3 separate regions of the Homo sapiens genome follow, and regions 1 and 3 are each linked to region 2. Evidence: fine-mapped expression QTL. A gene starts in region 2. Each other region holds a variant in brackets. All regions are shown on one strand. Distances are between the middles of the regions.

Region 1 (8,179 bases), 26 kb after region 2:
GGTGTGCTTGATTCTTTCCCTTTCCTAGACCCCTAATCTAACAGGTCAGGTCAACAAGTCCTTGACTCCTACTACAGACTCTTGAAGTTGTCTTCCTTCCAGTCTGTCACTGCCGCCTTAGTTCTGGCTGTCTTCATCTCTGTCTTGAACTGTAGGCCTCTAACCAGTCTCTGCTTTCTCTCTCAGCCACTGCTCCTCATTCTTCACGCGGCTCTTGGTGCCATCTTTCTAAATCACATTAAGAACTTTCTCTTCCACTGCTAATAATCTTTCAATGTTGTTTTCATTGCCTGCAGAAAAATGCCAGATTCTTGGTTGAGATAGTCAAGGTCCTTCCTGACTTGGACCCTGTCATCTCTCCAGCGAAATTCTCCAGCACACCCACAAATGCCACTTTTGTGCCAGACCCGTTGAACTCTTTCTAGTTTCTAAAATCATCATCCTGTCAGGCCTCCAGATCTCATGCAGAACATCCCCTCTGTCCTTCTCCATATTGTCTTCCCAACAAACTGGATGTTTCCTGTAAGTCTTAGGTTAAACTTTAGAACTTTTGCTGGCAAATTCTCACTTGCTGCATATAGAATTGGACACCCTTTTTTCTGTGCCCCTCTGTTCCCCATACAGACTTCTGTTGTAGCGCCTACAGCAGCCTGTGGTTTTCTGTTGACGTGTTTGTCTTCTTCCTTGGAAGCAGGGACCACACATCATCATTCATCTCTGAATCCCCTGTACCTAGTGCTGTCTGGCCCTGAGGAGGTGTTTGCTTTATGTATTTAGAAAGAACCATGCAGATGAGTAGAAGGTTCCATATGGGCAGAAGTACCTCCGGAGGCTTTACTTGGTATCGTCACTGTGGGGCTGAGTCTTGCGGCATGAGTTCTTTTGAAGACAACCACTTGCCCTAAGGAAGATCAGCAGCCTCTCAAATGCCTGTTATTTCTGGGTCCTTGTTAAGCCAAATTTTAGAATAGAATTGTTGATGTGAAAGGAAACTTTACTAGAGGTGAACTGCTAGCCTCTTCTCCCACCCACCTTAATCTACATTTTAGGGTAAACGAGGGGGTTAGACTTTGGTTCTCAATCTCATGGAGACAGTGTCCCTAGTGTCCAGATATGGGGTGGAGTCTGGCCTTCCCCTCCGCTTCGTGGCCTGGCTGGTGCTACTTGGTATAGGGCTGTGGGGCTCTCAGCTCTTTGCTAAAGTATTGAGACCCTCTCCTTGCTTTTCTACTTTCCCAAGCACTGGTGACCCCGGCAGCCCTGAGGCCTCTGGTCTTGGGTGGTAATCAGTTGGTGATCATTGTGGGAATTGTCTGTGCCACAATCCTGCTGCTCCCTGTTCTGATATTGATCGTGAAGAAGACCTGTGGAAATAAGAGGTACAGGGCTACCCCCACCCCTTGGATTGGGAGGCTGGGGGTGCAAGGCTGCCTCTACCCCAAAGTAGAACAGGGTGATAGGGCCCTACTTATGCCATTCTCACAGAAGGGGGTATTTTTAAATGGAATCATCTGTGGTAACCCTGCCCACTTTGCTTACTGTGCCCGGGAAAAGAATTTAATATTCCTACGCTCTCCTCATTCACTTTGTTATTATGTAAAGACTACAAACTCCCTTAGAAATGGGGGCCTCAGTAGGGCATAATTCAGAGCATAAATCTTACACAAGAACTATCATGGTACCATTCACTGCCTAAAAGATGATTTTTAAATTATCCATACTGTACGTTCCGCATAGAAGCTAAGATCTTAAGGGTTGCCAGTGGTTTTATCTAAAAGACCACATTCTAATTATGAGATACGATCTTTGAATGGGTGCCCTCAGGTTCTAAATGAATTATTATTAAAAGATGCTTTTGGCCAGGCGCAGTGTCTCATGCCTGTAATCCCAGCACTTTGAGAGGCCAAGGCGGGCGGATCACGAGGTCAGGAGATCGAGACCATCCTTGCTAACACGGTGAAAAGCTGTCTTTACTAAAAATGCAAAAAATTAGCTGGACGTGGTGGCATGTGCTTGTACTCCCAGCTACTTGGGAGGCTGAGGCAGGAGAATGGCGTGAACCTGGGAGGTGGAGCTTGCAGTGAGCCGAGATCACGCCACTGCACTCCAGCCTGGGTGACAGAGCGAGACTCTGTCTCAAAAAAAAAAAAAAAAAAAAATAATAATAATAATAATGTGCTTTTAAAGGCCTGAATTTCATCGGTAGTTCTCCCAGGGTCTCAGAAGTGCCCAGATGCTCCAACAGGGACACTTGTGTTTCACTGGCTGTTGGCAGATCCATGTCCCTCAGTTTATCCAACTATCGATGGAGTATGCTTGTAGTGCAGATCGACTCCCTTGTTGAAATAGTGTCAGTGGGAAAGGGCCTCATGAATAGTCCTGACTTTTGAGTGTTCTTTCCCAGTGGGTCTTGGATCCTGCAGAAAACACTTGTGCCTGCTAAGTTTTCACTTGCACTCCCTAGGGCTTCCTGATTTGGTTTTGAACTTGGCTGGCCTCTCTAAAGGTCTTTGCTCTGGGCATGCTCGGAGCACTGAGCTAGACAACCTGGATTCCACTCTCAGCTTACTTCCCCTGTCGGGACCTCAGTTTCCCGCCAAAGGAAAGGTAGCACTTCCATGTCTAGTCGTTTATTCTAAAGAAATAATTAAATGGATATGCTGAGATTTGTGCAAAACTGCCGTCTTGCTTATAATTAAAAATAGGGATAATTGCCAGTGTCTGTCAGAAAGGCAACGATTCAGTGAACCAGTCAATGAAACACTCCAGATCCCTCTACATAATGACATGGAAAGATATCCAAGGAGTAAAAATACAGAATTTATGGTATGACCTCATTTTTATAAAAGAGAAAATAATATGATGCTCACTCCAGCAGCATATGTACTAAATACATTTTATGTGAGCTTATGCTTACACTGAGAGAGGCTTGGAAGGACAGTTGTAAAATGTGGGTAATTGTGTGGAATTTGAAGTGAAGGAGAAGGTGGATCCCATGGGGTGACGGGTTGCAGGGAACTTCCACTTCCAACTGTCTACATTTCTGTATTATCTGAATTATTTGACAGTGAGAAGATACAACTTTAAAAGCAGAAAATACAAGGAAAATATTTCCACTGAGACCAAAACATATGGTTTCTTTTCTAGCTTAAACCTTGAATTTTTTTTTTTTTTTTTTAGTTCTGACTTAGGCCAAAATAGAAAAAAAGAAAGTATGTTCAGAAGGCAAATGGTCATGAGATCAAAGGCCAAGGGACCCCGACAGGGCAGGCGCAGAGCTCCTGCTTGGGGCTTGGGTCGGGTGTTTGTGGGGGTTATTCTGCTCCGCCCCCCGGAAAGGCCAGGAGCCCTTCGGATTGGCGTCTTGCTGAGCTCCTGCTGCCCCCTGCTGGTTTCGCGGCACTCCCTGGTCCTCAGAAATGTAGACAGGATGGTCAAATGGAATCCCATCTCCCCTCTCTCTCTTCATTCACTTAAAATTACCTCTCCCATACGGACTGAAAGTGGCTTGAGTGATAATAGAGAAGTTGAAGCTGCTTTTCAGCCTAAATTATCTCCAGAACGGCTTCTTGTTCTTCATTAGAAGAGATGCGCTTCTCAGGTTTCCAGGTGAGCCGGGTAGCCCTGGCTGTAGGAGTCCAGAGAGAATAGTTCCTTCTCTGGTGTCTCTCTCTTCACGAAGCCAAGAGGGGATCTCATGTAGGGACCCTTGAATAAACCATGCCCGCTGGTTAATTCCACATGCTTTTCATGTCTTGCAGTTCAGTGAATTCTACAGTCTTGGTGAAGAACACGAAGAAGACTAATCCAGAGATAAAAGAAAAACCCTGCCATTTTGAAAGATGTGAAGGGGAGGTGAACACACGCTTCAGCCTAAAACACTAAGTAGATGCAGGCCTGGGCCGTTCTCATACCCCCGGGAACCATATCTTACCCATTGTATGTCGCAGCTTGCAGGCCAGTGCTTGGCACAGAGCAGGGACTCAGGAAGCCTTTGTCACTAAAGTAAGAGCCTCTGCGGAGTACAGTGCATGGGGTCGGCTGGGACAGCCCCAGGCAGCAGATCCTGGTATTGGGCTGAGGAAAGAGCACTGCGCTTGGAGTCAGTAAGATCTGCCACCTCCCTGAGTCTCATCAGCAAAATGAGGATAAAGATAAAGATACTATAGTTGCCCAGCCTGCTTGACAGGGTTGTTGTAAGGTTCACATAAGATGATGATATGCAAATGCTTTGTAATCTAGGAGGTGCTATTTGTCTAAAGTCTAATGGAGAATTATAATACATCCAGGAGTTAAGGAGTTCTAATGCTTAAAATGAAATAGTCTAAGATCTTAGCAAGAAAGGATTAAGAAGGACTTTTCTCTCCATATTGATTTTGTAATGGAGTTATAAATAATTGCTTCTAGAGACTGAGAAATTGATTGGTTTTCTTTAACTCCTATTCTTTCTTTTCTTTCTTTAATTTTAAAAAAACTCTTTGAATAGTTACCTTTCTCTATTTTGGGCTGTTTTTGTCCCAAGAGTAGGATTTTTTCCCAGTAGAGTGCAGTGGTCCAAGAATGGGCCACTGGATGATACTGCTTTACCAACGAGTGACAGGACCATGAACCTCACAGTTGTGAGGTTCAATGAGGGCTGGCCCTGCCACATAAATCCTCTGAGGGAGATGATGACAATTCACTGCTGATTAATGCCATTCTGCCTTTACTGTAATTAGAAGGAAATAACCCCAGAATACAAGGAATTTAGCAAGATAAGGAACCCCTGCTGCTACCTAAACATCCATCTAAACAAAGATGTTTGGCTTTTGAAGCAAAGAGTTTGGTTCTTAAGACTGTGTTCTTTGACAGTTAATTTTCAAGAAGACTGAAGACTGAATTATCATTGTTGAGAATTCTCTAGGTCTCAGTAACCCTCTGAACCAGCAGTTTGGGTGGTCGATGCCTAGCAAATAGGAGTGGGTGGCCTTTTCTCTGGTGTATAAGATTCATCTAATTTTTAGGAATTTTTGTACCATTTTCCCCCTCTA[G/C]AAACACATTTACTCCCCAATAATTGTACGGGAGGTGATCGAGGAAGAAGAACCAAGTGAAAAATCAGAGGCCACCTACATGACCATGGTGAGAATGATTCTGGCCTCAGCTGAGCCAGGTGTCAGAGGCTCAGGTGGTGGTGGTGGTGGGCGTGGCTGGGTTGCCCAAGGGAGGCTGCTGAGGGCGGTGATTTTTCTAAGTAGCAGAAAAGTCTGAGAAACTGAAGTTCTGCTGGATAGAAGAGTGATATCAAACTTTCTTACCCAAGCTCAAGGATTAAAGGTTATCACCAGAGATTATTTATATTAGTGGTGAAAAGAAGTGAAGAGTGGCTTTTACTGAGGGCAGGGAGGACGTCTTTTGCCTCATCAGTTCAATCTAATAAAGAAAACACGGCCGGGTGTGGTGGCTCATGCCTGAAATCCCAGCACTTTGGGAGGCCGAGGTGGGCGGATTGCTTGAGGCCAGGAGTTCAAGACCAGCCTGGCCAATGTGGCAAAACTCCCTCTCTACTAAAAATACAAAAATTGGCCAGGTGTGGAGATGCGTGCCTATAATCCCAGCTACTTGGGAGGCTGAGGCACGAGAATTGCTTGGACCTGGAAGGCGTTGGTTACATGAGCCGAGATCCACCACTACACTCCAGCCTGGGAGACAGAGTAAGACTCTGTTTCAAAAAAAAAAAAAAAGGCCGAGCATGGTGGCTCACACCTGTAAACCTAGCACTTTGGGAGGCTGAGGCAGGTGGATCACTTGAGGTCAGGAGTTTGAGACCAGCCTGGCCAACATGGTGAAACACTGTCTTACTAAAAATACAAAAAAATTAGCCAGGCATGGTGGCGGGCACCTGTAATCCCAGCTACTTGGGAGGCTGAGGCAGGAGAATTGCTTGAACCTGGGAGGTGGAGGTTGCAGTGAGCTAAGATCGCGCCACTGCACTCCAGCCTGGGAAACAGAGCGAGACTCCTGTCTCAAAACAACAACAACAACAAAGAAAATAGGATAAATAGGATAAGATCCTTGGGCAAGTATTGTGTTGCTGTGAGTCGTTTTCCTTGCTATCAAAAGGTCAAAGTAGGGTTCCTTCCAATGCTTAGATTTTGTTTCTTAACTTTGTGACTTATTATACCTTCTCATAACCTAACTGCCAGGCAGGCTGCATGCTGGATCTCATACAATATTTTGGAGTCTGATTCCTAATTTCCCTTTGCTTAGACTTCTGTAGCCCCTTAGAGAACTGCAGTGCCTGGAAAAGGCACCTCGGGGCGTGCAGTGAGTGGGGGTAGGGACAAAAGGAGTGAGCTGGCGATGAGCACGGTGCTATTTGTAGACTAATTATAGGCACCCAGCCTATTAAGGAGCAGTGTTCTGTGGGTTTGGGAAGGCTGGCCTCCTCTGCTTGTGGAATGATGGGCTTTGTTTGTTCCTATCGTACCAGCCCTGAGGACACATGACTCCCAGCTGATTGCAGCAGAGAGAGGTCTGCCAGGGAAGTGTGAGATCAGAGGCCTGGCCTGGATCCACCGAGTGAAACATTAACTCCACCCTGAAGTTGCAGCTGAATGGAATCATTTTCCCTCTGTATCTTTCTCCCATACTGTTATGTGATGCTGCAGTAACTTGCGAGGCCTCATCCTGGCTCCTGGAGACCTGCTGATACAGCTGCCTTGTGGCTACTGCTGAGTGGGTCACCAGCCAGGGTGGCACTGTTTGCAGAACGTCTCCGAGGTGGAGATGATGCAGGAGGAACAATTGTCTTCACAGCTAACTTCCCCAGGTTTAATGCTAGGCGATTATGGTTTTGATTCTGTTGAAAACACCATTCCTGTCCTCTTGATCTAGATCCAATAGAGTAAGAGAAGAGGCCTGGGCTGCAAACTCAAAGGCTGGCAGGGGCCAGTCAAGTTATTTTAAAATATGATGTGCCAAGTTAAATAAGGCTGTTGGTGAATTTGGGACTGCAGGCCACTTGTTTGAGACTGCATTTATAAAGGTGTTCTCTGATAGGGAGCAGGGGTAACAAAGAGCCTTTGTTTTTTGTTGTTGAATTGATGAAATTCATGTAAATGTAGTGGCACCTTGCTGTTTTCCCTTTCTGAGGCTGTACACACAGAGGTTAAGATCACAAGCTGTGGAGTTAGACAGACCTGGGTCCAAATTCTAACTCTGTGTTGCAGCCAGATGGTCTTGGGCAGTAACTTGGCCTGTCTGAGCCTCAGTTTCCTTATCCTTAGAAAGGCAATAATAATACCTACCTCCTGGTGGTAAGGATCACATGAGATAATGCATATGAAATTCAGTACTGGGCCGGGCTCATGAGAAGAGCTCAATGAACAGCAGCTGCTATGATTATGGAACTACTTCTTACAAGCATGTTTTGTTTCTTTCTGCCCTTCCCCCACAGCACCCAGTTTGGCCTTCTCTGAGGTCAGATCGGAACAACTCACTTGAAAAAAAGTCAGGTGGGGGAATGCCAAAAACACAGCAAGCCTTTTGAGAAGAATGGAGAGTCCCTTCATCTCAGCAGCGGTGGAGACTCTCTCCTGTGTGTGTCCTGGGCCACTCTACCAGTGATTTCAGACTCCCGCTCTCCCAGCTGTCCTCCTGTCTCATTGTTTGGTCAATACACTGAAGATGGAGAATTTGGAGCCTGGCAGAGAGACTGGACAGCTCTGGAGGAACAGGCCTGCTGAGGGGAGGGGAGCATGGACTTGGCCTCTGGAGTGGGACACTGGCCCTGGGAACCAGGCTGAGCTGAGTGGCCTCAAACCCCCCGTTGGATCAGACCCTCCTGTGGGCAGGGTTCTTAGTGGATGAGTTACTGGGAAGAATCAGAGATAAAAACCAACCCAAATCATTCCTCTGGCACATTATTTCTAAATAAGTGTTGTTTGTGGAAATCGTCCTATTTTTATGCCTCGGTTGAGGGGGCAAGTAAAGTCCTGGTGAGGAATTTACAGTTAGAAACTTTTGGAAAAACTGAAGTTCCTGGAGGAAAGCCAAACCGTGCTAACACACTAGAGGCTGGTTTTGGTCCTGGGAAAGGTTTGGGGTGAATGGGTTGGAAGTAGGGTATGAATACAGTTTTGGGATTTAACTCAGTGGTTCTTCATTCCTGCTGGTGGCTCCTTGCGGGGCCTCACCACAT
Region 2 (8,179 bases):
TCAGACTGTATATGTTAGTTTAAAAATCACTTTTCTCTCTCTCAACTTCTTTCTTTTTTTTTTGAAGACTTAATTTAAAAAATTTGGGTTGTTAGATCCGTATCATAGATTTGGCCTAGCCTCTTCTGTTAACCTAGTCCACAGATGAGCGAATCTGGTTAGTTGAAGGACATTGTGATTTGACTCTGGTCACGCGAGGAAGTAGAAGGGCAAAGACAGGACCGGCAGTTTACATTTCCAGTGGTTAAACCTCACGGTACTTTGGGACTGCTTGTTAACTTTTGTGGTTGTCTGAGGCCAATCTAACGTGACCATTTCTGACACCTCAACAGAGAGAGGAAAGCAACTTGAGCAATGAGAGTAAATAACTTGGGCTCTCAGAGATTTGAAGATAGAGATCTCATTGTGAGGGGGACTATTTTGCAGGTCCTCATTTCTCCAAGAAAGAGATGGTGTTACAGGAACCCACTGAAAGCCATATCCCATTAAATGAGGAACTAATTTTGGCTGGGCCTTCTTGTAATGTCCTCGCAGGTGTGTTGTGAAGATTAATGCAGGGTAGTATGTTTGTAGATTGACACCTAGTCTAAACTTGAGGTAATTGGTGCTCTGTGAATACTCAGTCGTGTTCTTTTATAGCCTTAATCATGATTTGAACTAGTCCCTTGCTTTTTAAATGACTGAATGAAGTCCTTCGTGGTAAGGGAGTACGTTGATAACTTAGTTTACTATATGGGTTTGTGGTCGCATCCCAGTCATCAGCTGCTATCATTTTCCTTCTTCATCCCTTATACTGAGATTTGGGTTACAGCTTTTTATTCTTCGAAGGATCACAAAGCAGTGTACAGACACCTGCCTTCTTTAAGGATGAAAGGAAGATAAAGTGGTCTTTTTTTGTTTACTTATTTGTTTCACCTCTTGTTTGAGTAACTTCTAAGGTGCTATTCTCTCTCTCTTTTTGCTACCTCATGAGCTCTTGTCACAGCCATGGAAACCAGCCTCGTTTAGAAAGGGAACTTAGTTCAGAAGGGGTTAAAAGCCTTCCAGAATTTTTCTTTAGCTGCTGAAGTTTTTACATGTGGTTACATGACTTTAAGTTTTATGCATTACGCTCTTAATTCTATTACAAAATGTGGACTCACCAATTGCTTTGTGTTTTCCATGTGACCTGTTACTTCAGGCTACTTGGGGAACATCTTAGTCCTCTGTAGCTCCTGAACCCAGCACTGGTGCTTCAAGAGAGAAGGTAGCACGTCTTTGTTCAAAACAAAACAAAACGACACTTCTGGAGGCCACATCCTGAATATGAATGTTCTACTAAGTCACTCAGTTATGGTTCTAAAGGGAAACTGTAAGAAGACCCACAAGGAGTGGACCAAGACTATTATTTAATTGCACAACTTGAAACTTTGCTGCCAGAAGAGGCAGCTCCATTCCTTTGACTCCAGTGTTGGGCTGTTAACTGCTGCACCTCATTGCCTTTTTTTGTTTTTGTTTTTGTTTTGTAGGAGGGTAGGCACTGTTGGGCCATATGCACAAATATTGTAACTCTTGGTATCTTTACTGCATCATAGTCAATAAACTTCTTTGTACCCTTTGGCTACCTTTTGGTGTGTGCATATCTACATAAAAGGTGGGAATTGTCATGTGAAAAAGATGGGGGTTTGTGGTATTAAAAGCTGAATTAAATTTAAAAGAGTTTAATTGAGCACAGAATGATTCATGAATCAGGCAGTCTCCTGAGCCAGAGTGGACTCAGAGACTCCAGCGCAGCCACGTGGTGGAAGATTTATGGACAGCAAAAGGAAAGTCATGTACAGGAAACAGAAGTGAGGTACAGAAATAGCCGGATTGGTTACAGCTCGGTGTTTGCCTTATTTGAATAGTTTGAATCATTGGCCATCTTCGATTGGCCAAACTCAGTGACTGGCACAAGAGTAGACTAGAGTCCGTATACTATTCCATTTACGTTATAGTTCATGATGTACAGAGAAACCTTTAGGCCAAACTTAAAATATGTAAGGAGGCAGCTTTAGGCTAAACTTGATTTAACAGTGGTTTTCAGCATCGTGCAACCAGTCATGTCGGAGCTGTACCCCCGCAAGAACCTGCAGAGGTTCCGTGGTGTGCTGGAACCAGCTTACATAGCAAGAGCTGATTACAGGCTGAGTACCCCTAATCTGAAAATACAAAAGAGTGGTTGCTATTTCAACTCCAAAATCTGTAACTTTGAGTGCCAACATGATGCTCCAAAGAAATGCTTATTGGAGCATTTTGGATTTTCAGACTAGGGACGTTCAACTTGTATGTATTCGGCAAATATTCTAAAATCTGAAAAAAATATGAAATCTGAAACATTTCTGGTCCCAAGCATATTGGATAAGGGATACTCAACCTGTATTAAGTTTTTTAGGAATTTTGCAAGCCAGTTGTTAAACTGTTGGTAGCTTGAAATAGGTTATGATGGGAATATTTATGCTGTGGAGATTGCTGGCTCTCTAGCACATCACTTCTCAAGGACCATGCAGCGTAGTGCTTGGGAGCAAACGTTCAACAGCTTTTCAGATGATACAGGACAAGTTCCATGAGTCTGCCCATGCCTAGGTCAAGCCAATCTAGCCGAGGTTGAAGGTGCGTACATTGAGAACACCTATTTTGAAGTGGTGACTAAGACTGAGAGGTATCTTGAAGTGAAGAAACCTTGAGTTCTAATCTAGGATGTCCAAGTCACCCAAGAGGTTCTCTATGGGAATCAATGGCTGCCTGTATTCTGGAAATGCTGATATCACATGGCCAGAGGAAACTTTCATGTCTACATGGTGAGTTGGAGGACTGGGCAGGCGTATCTTTGGAAGCAGGGATTGGGTGATTGCCTGGCGAGGTTGCACCTCTGTTTTGAGAGGAAAAATAAAAGAGGTTGCTGTATCTTTAACACAGAAGGTTTTGTGTTAATATTACGTTTATTGTATTTTGTTTGCATGAAATGGATTTCTTTCTCAGCACCTATTTGCCTGGTGCCATTCAAGCTCCTACCCTCAGAGGGCTTGTCATCTAAAAGGGGAGATGGCACCTGAAGAGGTCTGAGTGTGAGGTTCACCTCAGTAGGTTGAATTTGTCACCTCTTTTTAGAATGAAAGTATACATAACAATTGGGTAATGGGCCAGATGACTGAAATGAGAACCTTGATTTAGAGGTTCCTGTTTGCATCTCTGCAACCACTTCAGAAGGCACGTGTTTGGTTTGCTCTGAGCCTAACCTAGAGTGCTCGCAGCAGTCTTTCAGTTGAGCTTGGGGACTGCAGCTGTGGGGAGATTTCAGTGCATTGCCTCCCCTGGGTGCTCTTCATCTTGGGTAAGCAGTTGCTTTGAATTTCTTAAGCCATTTTTTGAACTTTTCTCACACAGAAGTGTGCCAGTCCTGAAGGCTGGTTGAATTGGTAGTCTCTCAGGATTGTGAAGCTGCGATTGCAGAACTCTTGATCTCTGCAGGGGGATGTCATAAAGTAGTCTAATGGGTGCTGTTTCAGTTACTGTCGTGTAGAGTAACTTAGGTGAATCTCCTCAGCAAAAAGAGGAGCAAAGTTTCATCATAATAAGAGTACGTGACAATGATTATGACAAGGCTTCAGCTTTTAAGTCACCCGTGGGTTTAGGTGGAGCTGTGACTGGCTGTTCTTGAGCTCACAGCAGAGCTCTTTCTTCACTGTTTTTCTTTTTAGAAGACAGTTTTTAATTTTATTTTTAAACAAATTTTATTGTGTGTATTTAAGGTATACAACATGATGTTGTGGGATGCATGTAGATAGTAAAAAGTTTACTATGGTGAAGCAGATTAATATATCCATCATTTTACATAGTTATACCACTGTTTTTCTTCTCCCCATTATAGACAAACCAATATTTAACCTTTAGAAGCCCGAGACTTAAATCTCCCAAGAAAGCTAGGCTACTGTCCATGCTTGTTACACCCTCAGCACAGCCCTGACCTTGGGAAAGGCTGATGCAGGATGGTTTAGGTATAACCTACTCTGGAGAAGAGAGCAGGAGTAAGGACCTCCAGGGTCCCATTCGCGTAGAGCATTAACCGATGTGACCTAGACTGTGTTACAGAAGCCACGTGACCTACCAGTCTGTATTCAATGGCTTAACAATGGAAAATGAGGGCATATTTTAAGACGCATGGCTTAGAGTGGTTATATGGACTTGTAGACCTAAAAACATCTGAGAGCCTAGAAGTGCACAGCAGTGTGCAGATAGATTGAGAGGACTTGGCTCTGCAGGTGGACAACACTCTGTGAGTAAAAGAAGGCTGTGCAGTTGTCCGTTTGCTCAGTGGTTAGTTGTCCTTACTAGGGACAAACACTGAGAGACAGCAGCTCTCCCTTATTTTGTCTCATGATATTGTAATTTGGGGGGTAACTTTCACATCTTGTATGGTAGTCTCATTGTAGCATGTCTCTTTTCTGAAGATTTCTTTTCTGTAATATAAAGGGGTATGGATTTTTTGGAGGGAGGGGGTGCCACTTGTTCTCATTACCCAACAGGATATGGAGGAGAGTTGCTCAGAGAAGATTAGTATAGAGTCACTACAAGTCATTTAGGTAGCCAAAATGATAACTCCAAAATTTCTAAAAGGCAAAAATCTTTACTTGCTGATAGAGGGGAGAGTCAACTTTCCAAGCAGGTCGCAATAAAGACAGCATGATGCCAACCGAATCTATTTCCTCTCTCCTCCTTTTTCTGTTGTTTATTAAAAGGTAAACAAAAATCTCATTATTTTAAAATATTATGCAAAAATCTTGTTTATGAGAGAAAGCAAAATTTCACCTTTGCATTAGTATATTATTAATGTTAGATCCAATTCTTAATAAAACCTTATAAACAAATCTATACAATCATAGTTTGACCATAAGGTAAAACGTCCACAAACCTCTCATAATTCTTTACAATTTTCTGTTAAACAAATAAATTCTCTAGAAAACCATTATTCAGACACATGGGCCCGGATTCTGGCCCTACATCAGTGTGCTTTTATTTCAGTGTTCGACCTATGGAAAAACTAAGTAATCCCCTTTAAATCTTAGCCAACCTGCTTATACCCACAGAACTTTTCATGAGATTAACCCTTCACAAACCCTTTTCAACTTGCTTAAACCATCAGTTTTGTCACATTACTCTTTTTTTTTTTTTTTTTTTTTGAGACAGAGTCTCACTCTGTCACCTAGGCTGGCATGCAGTGGCACAATCTCGACTCTCTGCAACCTCCGCCTCCCGAGTTCAAGTGATTCTCCTGCCTCAGCCTCCCAAGTAGCTGGGATTACAGGCGCTCACCACCACACCTGATTAATTTTTGTATTTTTAGTAGAGACGGGGTTTTGCCATGTTGGCCAGGCTGGTCTGGAACTCCTAACCTCAAGTGATCTCCCCACCTCAGCCTCCCAAAGTTCTGGGATGACAGGCGTGAGCCACCATGCCCAGCTGTCCCATTACTCTTTTAGGTGAGGCCAATAGTTAAAACCCTCTGAGCTAGACAAAATTACGTTCTCTTTAACAGAAACCATATTCACACGCCTTCTTATAACCTCCCACCAAAACACATTCTTTACTTACACTGTCTTTATTTTTTATGTTATTTACACTGTCTTTATGTTTAAAAATCATTAGAGTCACGTGACCTAAAAGAGATTAAAGTTTCAATTTTTTCTGATAAAATGTTTGATTTTAGTTTCTTTAAGCCAATTAATTAGAGCTCTTTTATATAAATACTATACATACAACACATATAAATACACAGACAGACAGAAATGGAAAATCAAGACAAAATTCCATTGACTGAGAAGTTCTTAGAGGGAAAGCAGGGGCTTTTTGTTTGTTTAGATGGAGTCTCGCTCTGTCGCCAGGTTGGAATGCAGTGGTGCGATCACAACTCGCTGCAGCCTCAGCCTCCTGGGCTCAAGTGATCCTCCCACTTCAGCCTCCTGAGTAGCTAGGACTACAGGTGCCTGCCACTACATCCAGCTAATTTTTGTATTTTTTTTTTGTTCAGATGGTGTTTCACCAAGTTGCTCAGGCTGGTCTCAAACTCCTGGGCTCAAGCGATCTGTCCACCTTGGCCTCTCAAAGTGCTAGGATTATAGGCATAAGCCACTGTGCCTGGCCAGCAGGGGCTTTTAAAACAATATCTGTATACATACAGCCCAAATATCGTCTTTAATTAAGTTGATTTCTGACTATGGAGTTCTCAAAATAAAAATCCTATAAAAATCTTTTATTACCAGATTTTAGCCAGGACAAATGGCCAATATTTCTGGCTTTTGAATCTTTACCTAAAGGTAACCTCCTATGTGAAATTAATAAACCTTAAGTAAGGGGATAACTTAAACAGGGACACACAAGGTGTCTCCAAAGAGATGGTAAGCAATTTACAAGATCTAGAATTGCCCCAAAGGTAACTCAGAGAAAAGAAAATTTCAAGACAGGAAATTAGGAGCTCTCCATGGAGGGGAAAAGAATCAATAAATGATTAAACCACAAAAGACTCACTTTTGGAGCCAGGAATTGAACCCAGGGCACCACTGTGAGAGGGCAAAGCTTTAGCAGTTGAGCTACAGCAGGGGTCCCCAACCCCTGGGCAGTAGACTGGCACTGGTCCATGGCCTGTTGGGAACCGAACCGCTCAGCAGGAGGTAAGTCGGGGGCAGACAAGCAAGCATTACTGCCTGAGCTCTGCCTCCTTTCAGATCAGCGAGGGTATTAGATTCTCACGGGAGCATGAACCCTATGGTGAACTGCACATGCAAGGGATCTAGGTTTCATGCTTCTTAGGAGAATCTAATTCCTGGTGATCTGAGGTGGAACAGTTTCATCCCCAAATCATCACCCACCCTCCCTGGTCTGTGGAAAAATTGTCTTCCATGAAAAAATTGTTTTCCATGGGGAAAAATTGTCCCCGGTGCCAAAAAGATTGGGGACCAGTGAACTATAGTGCAAGATAACTGCTGTTGTTTTTTTCCGGGAGGAGTTTAGAGCATTTCAAGCTTGCAAAGGATTTTAACTGCTCAAGAGAACTTTCTAGGACTAGCCATGTAATTATTACGCATGCTTCTTTTAATTTTGCCTTTTCCTTTTAATGGTGTACTCAGTTCCAATGGTGACTGAATCTAAAAGCCTGTTAAACTCCAGATAGTGATTTTCCAGATTTTTACCATATAAGCAAAAGGTATTTCCAGAAAGGGGTAGAGGAGGCATCTCTATGACAGGGAGCTCTTGAACTCAAGGGGAAATTGATAATTTTACTTGCCACCTCCAGAGTCACCCTTGGCTTTGTTTTGCTGTGATTTGGAATTCAGCGGGGGCAGAGAGCCCACTTCATTTTAAGGCCATCAGGGGCTAGAATTCTGTCCTCAGGGTCTTTCAGCCCTCAGGACAGTCCCATTTTCAGCAGCTGAGCTTGTGGCAGAGGGTACAAGCTGTGCGGGGCTTTTTCCCATGTATCCCATTGGGGCAGTTTGCCTTCCAGTGGCCTGGCCATCTGCACTGAGGGCACTTACCTGGAGGAGTGTCCTTAGGGCAACCTGGAGGGAGCTGAGGGCTTCTAAATCAGCCAACAATTGAGCCTGCCTTTCTTCCCTGCATTTTTCTTTCTCCTTAGCCCTGGCCTCCTTATTCTGCTCTTGGTTATAAAAGATCGAGGAGGCCAAGTTGAGGATTCTTTGCATAGGGACCACGCTGTATTACACAAGAAAAGTAGATGTTTCTTTTTGAGAGTCTGAGGGTTAAATTTGTCTCAATGTTTTAGGATGCAATGCAGAGGTGAGTCTGAAGGAACAGATGGGATTTGTCCCATGGTGGGACTGGAAAATGATGAGCCAACCTCTGGGGGCTAATGTCCGCTGGGGACACAAACTGCTTTCTCTTGAGGCTTCTCGCTGAGGAAAAGCGTTCCACTCTCATCCACTGATGGACTTGGGTGCACTTTCTAAAGGGCATCCCAGCTATCAGAAAGACTTCTCTGCACTGGGGCCTTGCACCGGATAATCGGTTCAGGTATGAGGAGAGGGGAGGTGAATGGGGAGACTCACTGCTCTGAGGTTGCTTGAGCTCACCTAGTTTGGGAACATCCAGAGCAGGAGGTTTGCCTGTCTTCATGGGGAGAATTTAGAGTGAGAAAGAGGTGGGT
Region 3 (8,179 bases), 390 kb after region 2:
AGGTTGTTTGAACCCTCACCAAGTCATGAGTGCAGAGCAAAGCTGGGGATTTGGCTTGGCCCCTGGTCAGGCTGACGCTTGGAGCTGACGGATGGAGGCTTCTTAGCCAGAGAATCATTTTTTCCTCCCTCTGTCCCCAGACGCCATGGAGTTGGTGCTGGTCTTCCTCTGCAGCCTGCTGGCCCCCATGGTCCTGGCCAGTGGTAAGTACCCCTCTGGGACCTGGCTGTGACAAGATGACAACCCTGTCCAGCCCTCTCTGCTGGAAGGTTCTGGGCCCCTTGGGACATTAGGGCTGGGGGACTCTCACGTTCTTCATGTCTAGTCAGGGGCCTCTCCCTTCAGTCAGCAGAGAAAGTCGTGGAGGTGGCAGCTATTTATTCACAGACCTCAGCACAGCCTGCCCCCTCGCCCCCTAAGGGTCCGGCAGGGAGTAGTTTTTAAGCCCCGCAAGCTCACTGCGCCTCTGTGGATTTGTGGCCTGAACCCTGGGATTCAGACCTGCACATCAGTCTCTAGACCATATTAGCAAGTGCTGGCCTCGTGCAAGTCATATGTCCTTCCTTGGTCTCGGTTTCTCCGTGTGTCACAAGAGGAAAACTGACCCTGCCTTCTGGGGATGATGTAAGAATACAAAGGGGCAATGAATGTGGGTGTTGCATGACTCAGAGCCTCACTGAGTTTCGATGCCTTCACTGACCTCGGCCCTTAGGGTTCCCCTAACCCCCTAACTGGCAGGCCCGCCCTACCGTGCACCTCTAGGCATCTCTGTTTAATGGGCCCTGCTCCTCTGGAATTCCTTTGTGGAGACTGAGGTCTGTGAGGCAAGGTTAGATATTTGGGAACCAGTTTGTGTAGCTTTCTTTCTCTTGACCAACTGTTTGTTTTTGCAGCAGCTGAAAAGGAGAAGGAAATGGACCCTTTTCATTATGGTGAGCGATGGCAACCCTGGGTGCAGGGGTCAGGGGGAATGCAGCCCTGCCTGGCAGGAGGGGTAGGGGGAACAGACACCCTCTCCCTGGCCCCTTCCTCTCTCACCCTTGGTTCCTTTGGCAGATTACCAGACCCTGAGGATTGGGGGACTGGTGTTCGCTGTGGTCCTCTTCTCGGTTGGGATCCTCCTTATCCTAAGTAAGTTTGTTCTTTTGCTCACTCTGTTAAGAGCAATGACTGAGGCTGCTAAGCAGGTGGGGACAGTGTGAGAGCCTGGTTGGTCCCTCTCCTGGAGAGGAAAGGAGGCTGCCTGCCCTCCGTGTTATCTTCACGACCCAGTAGAGTGCTGGGCACATAGTAAGTGCTCAGTAAAACAGTGACACGGGAACAAAGAAAATGTCATATGACAATGAGCATAGATAGGAACGAGCAGGGTGGCTTCCCAGTGCTGTGTCTATAGGGCATGAATGGGGCAGTCACGGAGGAAGGAGACAGGTGCTGCCCTAGTGTGCGAGGGATGTGCCTCCGAGTTTGTTGTTCCCACATGAGCCTGATCTGCACAGATCCCTCTTTACTCACATGATCAAGAGGGCTGTGGGGGTGTAGCCATTCCAGCTATAGAATGTATTTCCTTTGCCCCAGAAGAAGCTACCCCATCCGAGGGCCACTGTGTGCAGCTGTGCAAACTGTGCACTGCCCAGGTCTAGGGGGTGCCATTTACATAGTCCCACAACCTGCACAGACCCTTGGCCCTGCTGTGGCCAAGCCAGCAGCATGACCTTGGATGGTTTCTTTGCTTTTCAGGTCGCAGGTGCAAGTGCAGTTTCAATCAGAAGCCCCGGTAAGGATGCCGTGGCAGTGGCCTTGGGGGGGTGATACTAGGTGGGACAGGAAGGGACCCCTGGTGTGTGACCCCCAAATGGGCATTCTCTTGGATTCTTGTCTCGGAGGCAGAACGTGTGTGTTGGGACGTAGGGCTGGAAGTTTGAGGACTGCCAGGTAGACTCTGGGGCAAAGGAGAGGTCAAAACATTGAAGGTCAGCCCATCCTGTCTCTTCTGATCTATGTGGGGGACGGGGAGTGGACAAGAAAGTACTGGAACCTTTTCTGGAGGCCCTTGGGACAGTTGAGCTTGGGAGAAGGGAAGCAGAGGGCTTCCTGGCCTCTCTAGATGCCCAGGTCCTCTCTACAGGACCTGCGACACAGTCCCCACTTGTCACCTGTTCATGAGGCTCTTTGAGCTGAATAGACACTTGGACCTTCTTTCTACTCCCACATAGAGGTCATACCCCATTAGTTTACTATAATAGCCAAGGGTAGCTTGGACCCCAGAAGTCCAAAGCGTGTGGCAGGACACACCCAAGCCCCCATGTGGCCCTAGCCTCCCCTTCCCATGAGGGCTGACATTGAAGGGTGCCTGTAAGTTCCCTCTGAGTCTGACCCTTCAGTCCAGACCTTTCCCTCTGTCCCATGCATCCCACAGCAGAGTGAGCTCCAGCCCCTCAGGGCACTGGGAGGAGCCTGACTGCAGGCAGCTGTGCCCCAGTGAGGAGCAGAACGATGCTCTCTGGGTCTGCCCTGGAGATCTCTGATGGGGCTGTGTGTCTCTTTCTCCTGCAGGGCCCCAGGAGATGAGGAAGCCCAGGTGGAGAACCTCATCACCGCCAATGGTAACTGTCCGTGACCACCTGCCCAGGTGGAAAAGAGGGAACAGAGAGACCCCTCTGTGGCTCAGGAAGGGACTGTTGCCAGGTGCATGGCCAGCCAGACATGCTCCCGCAGTGCCAGGAGAGTGGGTCTCCAGGGCCTCTGCAGCATTGCCCCCTCACTCCACCAAACAGGCTACTACTAGTGTCACCTGCTATTTACAGAGCATCTGCTTGTGCCAGGCACAGACCCCATATCATTTAATGGGCACACAGCCCTGAAATAGGCATCATTGTCCCCATTTTGTAACCGAGGGACTGAGAGAGGTTACCAGGTTCCTGTAAGCAGCAAGTAGCAGGGCCAGGATTGAACCCAGATCGTTCTGACTCGAAATCCCATGCCCGTCACCTCTTTGCTCCCCCAGAGTCAGGCAGAGACACGGCTGCTGTTGGGGGTGGCCCACGGGGGTGAGGAGTCTATACACTATAATCCATTCTGGTTTTCTTTCCAGCAACAGAGCCCCAGAAAGCAGAGAACTGAAGTGCAGCCATCAGGTGGAAGGTGAGATGCTCAGTGCCTGGATTGGCCCCTGTTGCCATCACCGTCTGCATCAGGGCCTGGACAGGGGTTCAGGCGGGAAGGATGGGGCTAGCTTTTGCAGTGGGCACAGCTTTTATTATGGGCCCTGCCCTGAGGAGCCTTCAGGAGTCTGAAAGGGGCTGTGAGAGAGACCAGGACTAGAAACACCCGAAGTGTCCCAC[A/G]CACATGCATGCCAACACCAGGAAATGGGGCTTCCACACAGCCCACTGGCCGAGTGCATAGGGCGTCATCCCAAGTGCAACATGGGAGAATTAGAGTTAGTGAAATGCTCCTAATCTCAAAGTAGCATAAAGATAATGGCTTTCCGTGGTGACTCAGAAAGTACTTTAGGGCCACTTGTTTTTTTAAACACCTTATTATGAAACTTCCCAACCCTAACCAAAAGTAGAGCAAATAGTATATGATCCTTCCCTCTCCACATTTAAGGGCACTGATTTTAGTATCTATTTCCATTGTTCATCGTAGGGGGCACAGGAGAGTAGTAACTGGCAAATGCTGTACAGTTTTCAGAGTGCCACCACACACACAGACTCACTCGAGTCTGCCAGAAAAAGAGGATGGGACAGGTGGGGTTTAGCCCATTTTATAGGTGAAACCAAGATGAGAGGGAATAGCCCCGTGGAGAGTGACAGCCCGGACTGTGAACTCAGGCCTTTGCGGCTGTGGTTCAGCGCCACTGCTCCCCTCTGTCCTGTGCGTCTCGCTTTATGACATGCCCTGGAATATCCTAAGGGAAAAGGTTTGTGTTTTGTCAGCTCACTTCTGCCTTTTTTTCCCCCCATACAAGTAAGGCATTATAGAAAGGTATATAAGTTTATCTCACATTGTAAGGTAAAAGAGGTTTCTGGATGATGAAGTGCCCGATGCACCAGCTTTGACTGTGCGTAACAATATCGTGTGCCTGTGTAGCATTTAAATTCTTTCCTAAGTGCTTTTGCATCCTCATAGCGGCCCGTGATGGGCAGAGCAGGGCTCATTACTCCCGTCTTCTGGATGGGGCTCTCGAAGGCAAGTGATCACCTAAGTGCGAATGGACGAAGATTCCGATCTAGGAGGCAGGTGCCCTTCCTGGTAGCTTGGTGTTCTGTCTATTTCATCACAGACTGAGAATCTGGGAAGGCTCAGAGGAGGCAGCCTGGAAATGAAATGTCTTTTCATTTTTTTTTTCCCAAACTAGTTCTTTCTCAGAAACCTTTTATCCTAAGGCTCAGGACTGTGAGCAACCACTGGGGAGGTCCTGGGTTTAACAATTTCCTTTCCATGTCTGCCAGGCTCCAGCCCACCTGGGAGAGGCTTCTTCTGAGGTTCACCCCTCCCCTGTGTCTTTGTCTCCTTTCTCTGCGTCTCAGACGAGGCTGTCATACCGGGAATTTCAGTGGGCAGGTGCTCAAGGAAGGGAGAGAAGCAGATAAGGATACCAGAGGCAGCCGAAGTGTTTTTAATTTAAATTATCCTCCTCCTCAGCCTCTGGAACCTGAGGCGGCTGCTTGAACCTTTGGATGCAAATGTCGATGCTTAAGAAAACCGGCCACTTCAGCAACAGCCCTTTCCCCAGGAGAAGCCAAGAACTTGTGTGTCCCCCACCCTATCCCCTCTAACACCATTCCTCCACCTGATGATGCAACTAACACTTGCCTCCCCACTGCAGCCTGCGGTCCTGCCCACCTCCCGTGATGTGTGTGTGTGTGTGTGTGTGTGTGACTGTGTGTGTTTGCTAACTGTGGTCTTTGTGGCTACTTGTTTGTGGATGGTATTGTGTTTGTTAGTGAACTGTGGACTCGCTTTCCCAGGCAGGGGCTGAGCCACATGGCCATCTGCTCCTCCCTGCCCCCGTGGCCCTCCATCACCTTCTGCTCCTAGGAGGCTGCTTGTTGCCCGAGACCAGCCCCCTCCCCTGATTTAGGGATGCGTAGGGTAAGAGCACGGGCAGTGGTCTTCAGTCGTCTTGGGACCTGGGAAGGTTTGCAGCACTTTGTCATCATTCTTCATGGACTCCTTTCACTCCTTTAACAAAAACCTTGCTTCCTTATCCCACCTGATCCCAGTCTGAAGGTCTCTTAGCAACTGGAGATACAAAGCAAGGAGCTGGTGAGCCCAGCGTTGACGTCAGGCAGGCTATGCCCTTCCGTGGTTAATTTCTTCCCAGGGGCTTCCACGAGGAGTCCCCATCTGCCCCGCCCCTTCACAGAGCGCCCGGGGATTCCAGGCCCAGGGCTTCTACTCTGCCCCTGGGGAATGTGTCCCCTGCATATCTTCTCAGCAATAACTCCATGGGCTCTGGGACCCTACCCCTTCCAACCTTCCCTGCTTCTGAGACTTCAATCTACAGCCCAGCTCATCCAGATGCAGACTACAGTCCCTGCAATTGGGTCTCTGGCAGGCAATAGTTGAAGGACTCCTGTTCCGTTGGGGCCAGCACACCGGGATGGATGGAGGGAGAGCAGAGGCCTTTGCTTCTCTGCCTACGTCCCCTTAGATGGGCAGCAGAGGCAACTCCCGCATCCTTTGCTCTGCCTGTCAGTGGTCAGAGCGGTGAGCGAGGTGGGTTGGAGACTCAGCAGGCTCCGTGCAGCCCTTGGGAACAGTGAGAGGTTGAAGGTCATAACGAGAGTGGGAACTCAACCCAGATCCCGCCCCTCCTGTCCTCTGTGTTCCCGCGGAAACCAACCAAACCGTGCGCTGTGACCCATTGCTGTTCTCTGTATCGTGATCTATCCTCAACAACAACAGAAAAAAGGAATAAAATATCCTTTGTTTCCTAGTGGCTCGGAGGTGCTTTCCTTTCTGTGAAAGAACTTGAGTGTTTGTAGGGTCTGTGGAACTTAAAGGGCTAGAGGGAGTCCGTCCATGGTCAGAGGGAAGAGGAAGGACTGGATAGCCACCCAGGCAGGCACAGAGCCCCGTCAGCTGCTGTCACTGTTGCCTCCTCCCCGCTTCTCTTCCCTCCTTTCCTTTTCTTCCTTCACTTTCCTCTCCTCCTGCTCAGCCCTTCGTCCCGCACCTTCCCGCCATTTCTATTCCTCCCTCCCTCTCTCCCGCCTTCCCAGGCCACTGGGCTCAAGCCACATCCCATAGCAGGACCTGTACATTGCACACTGTCTTGGAGCAAAAAAGGGAGTCACAATGGCTTCTCCAAGTACTCAGTGGCCTGGAGTAAAACATCCTAACATTTCTCTTTGGTCAGTTCTGGGGCCACTACCTAAGGACTTGTAAAGAGAGCCAGGGGTGGTGACTCATACCTGTAATTCCAGCAACTTGGGAGCCTAAAGCAGGAGAATTGCTTGAGGCCAGGAGTTCAAGACCAGCTGGGCAACATGGTGAAATCTTAGCTGGGCATGGTGGCTCGCACCTGTTGTCACAGCTACTCGGCAGGCTGAGGCAGGAGGATTGCTTGAACCCTGGAGTTCCAGGTTGCAGTGAACCGTGATTGCACCACTGCACTCCAGCCTGGGCAACAGAATGAGACCTTGTCTCTAAAAAGAAAAAAGGAAGGAAGGGATCAAGGGAGTGACAGGGTGGGTGACGTGGATTGTGAAATACCCCTCCTCTGTGGAGCCTCCCTGGGCATTAGGTAGAATCGAATCCCTTTTTTTTTTTTTTTTTTTTTTTGAGATGGAGTTTTGCTCTTGTCGCCCAGGCTGGAGTGCAGTGGCGTTATCTTGGCCCACTGCAACCTCTGCCTTCTGAGTTCAAGCGATTCTCCTGCCTCAGCCTCCTGAGCAGCTGAGATTACAGGTGCCTTCCACCATACCCGGCTAATTTTTATATTTTTAGTAGAGACGGGATTTCTTCATGTTGTCCAAGCTGGTCTCGAACTTTTGGCCTCAAGTGATCTGCCTGCCTCAGCCTCCCAAATTGTTGGGATTAGAGGCGTGAGCCACAGCGCCCAGCCGAATCCCTTTCTTGTGCCCCAATCACACTTGTTTGCTGCCTTTATATTCACACTTCATACTTGGCATCCAGACTGTAGAGACCAGGCAGGTAATGCCAATATGTGAATCTGCTGGAGTGACGATGGGGCATGGCACCTGCAGTCACCTACGGTGTCCTCCCAAAGACACTCTGACTCAACTTTCTAAAAACCACTGTTGGCCAAACCAACACAGATGTGGGCAGATTCTGCGTGGAGGTTGCCTGTGTGCAGCTTCTGCCTCTAGTGTTTTGTGTCTTTATTGATACAATTCCTGGAGGGCAAGGACTGTGCCTGCTCTACAGAAGCCTGGAACATCTTAGGGTCTTGAAAAAAGAATCGACCCCTGGAACGTCTTAATATCTTCCATCTTGAAGCCAGCACTTAAGGAGCGGGACCCTCTGGGCCCACCTCCTTCCAGCCCCAACTTCTAAGACCCCAGTGAACCTGGCACCTGAAGCTATAGCAGGAGACAGAAGTCAGTGCTCCTTGTGGTTTCGATGGGCCTGGGAACCACCACCTTCCCTGCCCAGTGGCCACACAGGCCCTGAGTCCGCCTGGATTCCGCAAGTTGTTTAGAACCGAAGAACCGCACAGATCCGCTTGCTCGGTGCCTTCTCTACGTGTGCTCTTGCTTCTGCCTTCGGTCCCCCAGGCCTTTGGAAAGACACAGGCTTATGGTAGAGCTCAAGCTCAACCTGTCAACCCAGTGATCATGGCGATTAAAAACTATCTGGTCACAGCAAGACCTGGTAAATGAGCTTATTGTTCGGGAACACTCGTGATACATCAGGGAATTGACAGGCCTTGCAGAAATTTCATAGCGAGGCCAGGCTGAGATCCCTAGAGGCCCTAGACATGCAAAGCTTTGTGTGTGCCGCCCCCCATACGTTAGTAAAAACAGAACATTATACTTCGACATAGGAATAAGGAAGTCCAATGAGGAGGTTCTAATTTTTCTCATAATAATTATGTTAAGAGTAAGGAATGATGGTCAGCATCTCTAGCACATCATCTACAAATGGTTATCCTTACTTTGCCCGCCTCTAAGCACTCACTTAGTTTTCCTCCTAGTAATCCAGCTATATT

Which allele goes with the higher level. Positions count from the first base shown, and alleles are read on the strand shown. Sizes are in standard deviations (SD) of each study's normalised expression. Not every link is listed here.
As copies of A replace G in region 3, the expression in cerebellum of the gene that starts at base 3,282 in region 2 goes up (large effect, 0.89 SD a copy in GTEx).

What was found. PIP is the estimated chance that this variant, and not a neighbour inherited with it, causes the effect.
Region 1: its variant is fine-mapped to the expression of JAML in whole blood (TOPMed, PIP above 0.99).
Region 3: its variant is fine-mapped to the expression of JAML in cerebellum (GTEx, PIP above 0.99).

Annotation. Positions count from the first base shown.
Region 1 is chr11:118,193,674-118,201,852 of GRCh38, reverse strand. It overlaps JAML (junction adhesion molecule like), which reads left to right. Exons shown (of 10, transcript NM_001098526.2): 7 at 1,241-1,379; 8 at 3,762-3,855; 9 at 5,032-5,118; 10 at 7,436-8,128. The coding sequence ends at 7,528. Among named protein-coding and RNA genes, the nearest start is that of SCN2B, 21 kb to the right of the region's middle. RefSeq lists an enhancer at 7,400-7,589. The variant G/C (reference allele first, on the strand shown) is at 5,031.
Region 2 is chr11:118,220,114-118,228,292 of GRCh38, reverse strand. JAML (junction adhesion molecule like) reads left to right here and starts at 3,282. Exons shown (of 10, transcript NM_001098526.2): 1 at 3,282-3,352. It overlaps MPZL3 (myelin protein zero like 3), which reads left to right. Exons shown (of 6, transcript NM_198275.3): 6 at 1-1,603.
Region 3 is chr11:117,834,743-117,842,921 of GRCh38, reverse strand. It overlaps FXYD6-FXYD2 (FXYD6-FXYD2 readthrough), which reads left to right. Exons shown (of 10, transcript NM_001243598.4): 2 at 141-203; 3 at 894-932; 4 at 1,057-1,131; 5 at 2,554-2,603; 6 at 3,092-3,141. The coding sequence starts at 146. FXYD6 (FXYD domain containing ion transport regulator 6) reads left to right here. Exons shown (of 8, transcript NM_022003.4): 2 at 141-203; 3 at 894-932; 4 at 1,057-1,131; 5 at 1,738-1,774; 6 at 2,554-2,603; 7 at 3,092-3,141; 8 at 4,645-5,941. The coding sequence starts at 146. The coding sequence ends at 3,120. FXYD6-AS1 (FXYD6 antisense RNA 1) reads right to left here. Exons shown (of 3, transcript NR_186291.1): 2 at 6,420-6,653; 3 at 4,603-5,754. Among named protein-coding and RNA genes, the nearest start is that of FXYD6-AS1, 5.1 kb to the right of the region's middle. RefSeq lists an enhancer at 11-1,210. The variant A/G (reference allele first, on the strand shown) is at 3,342.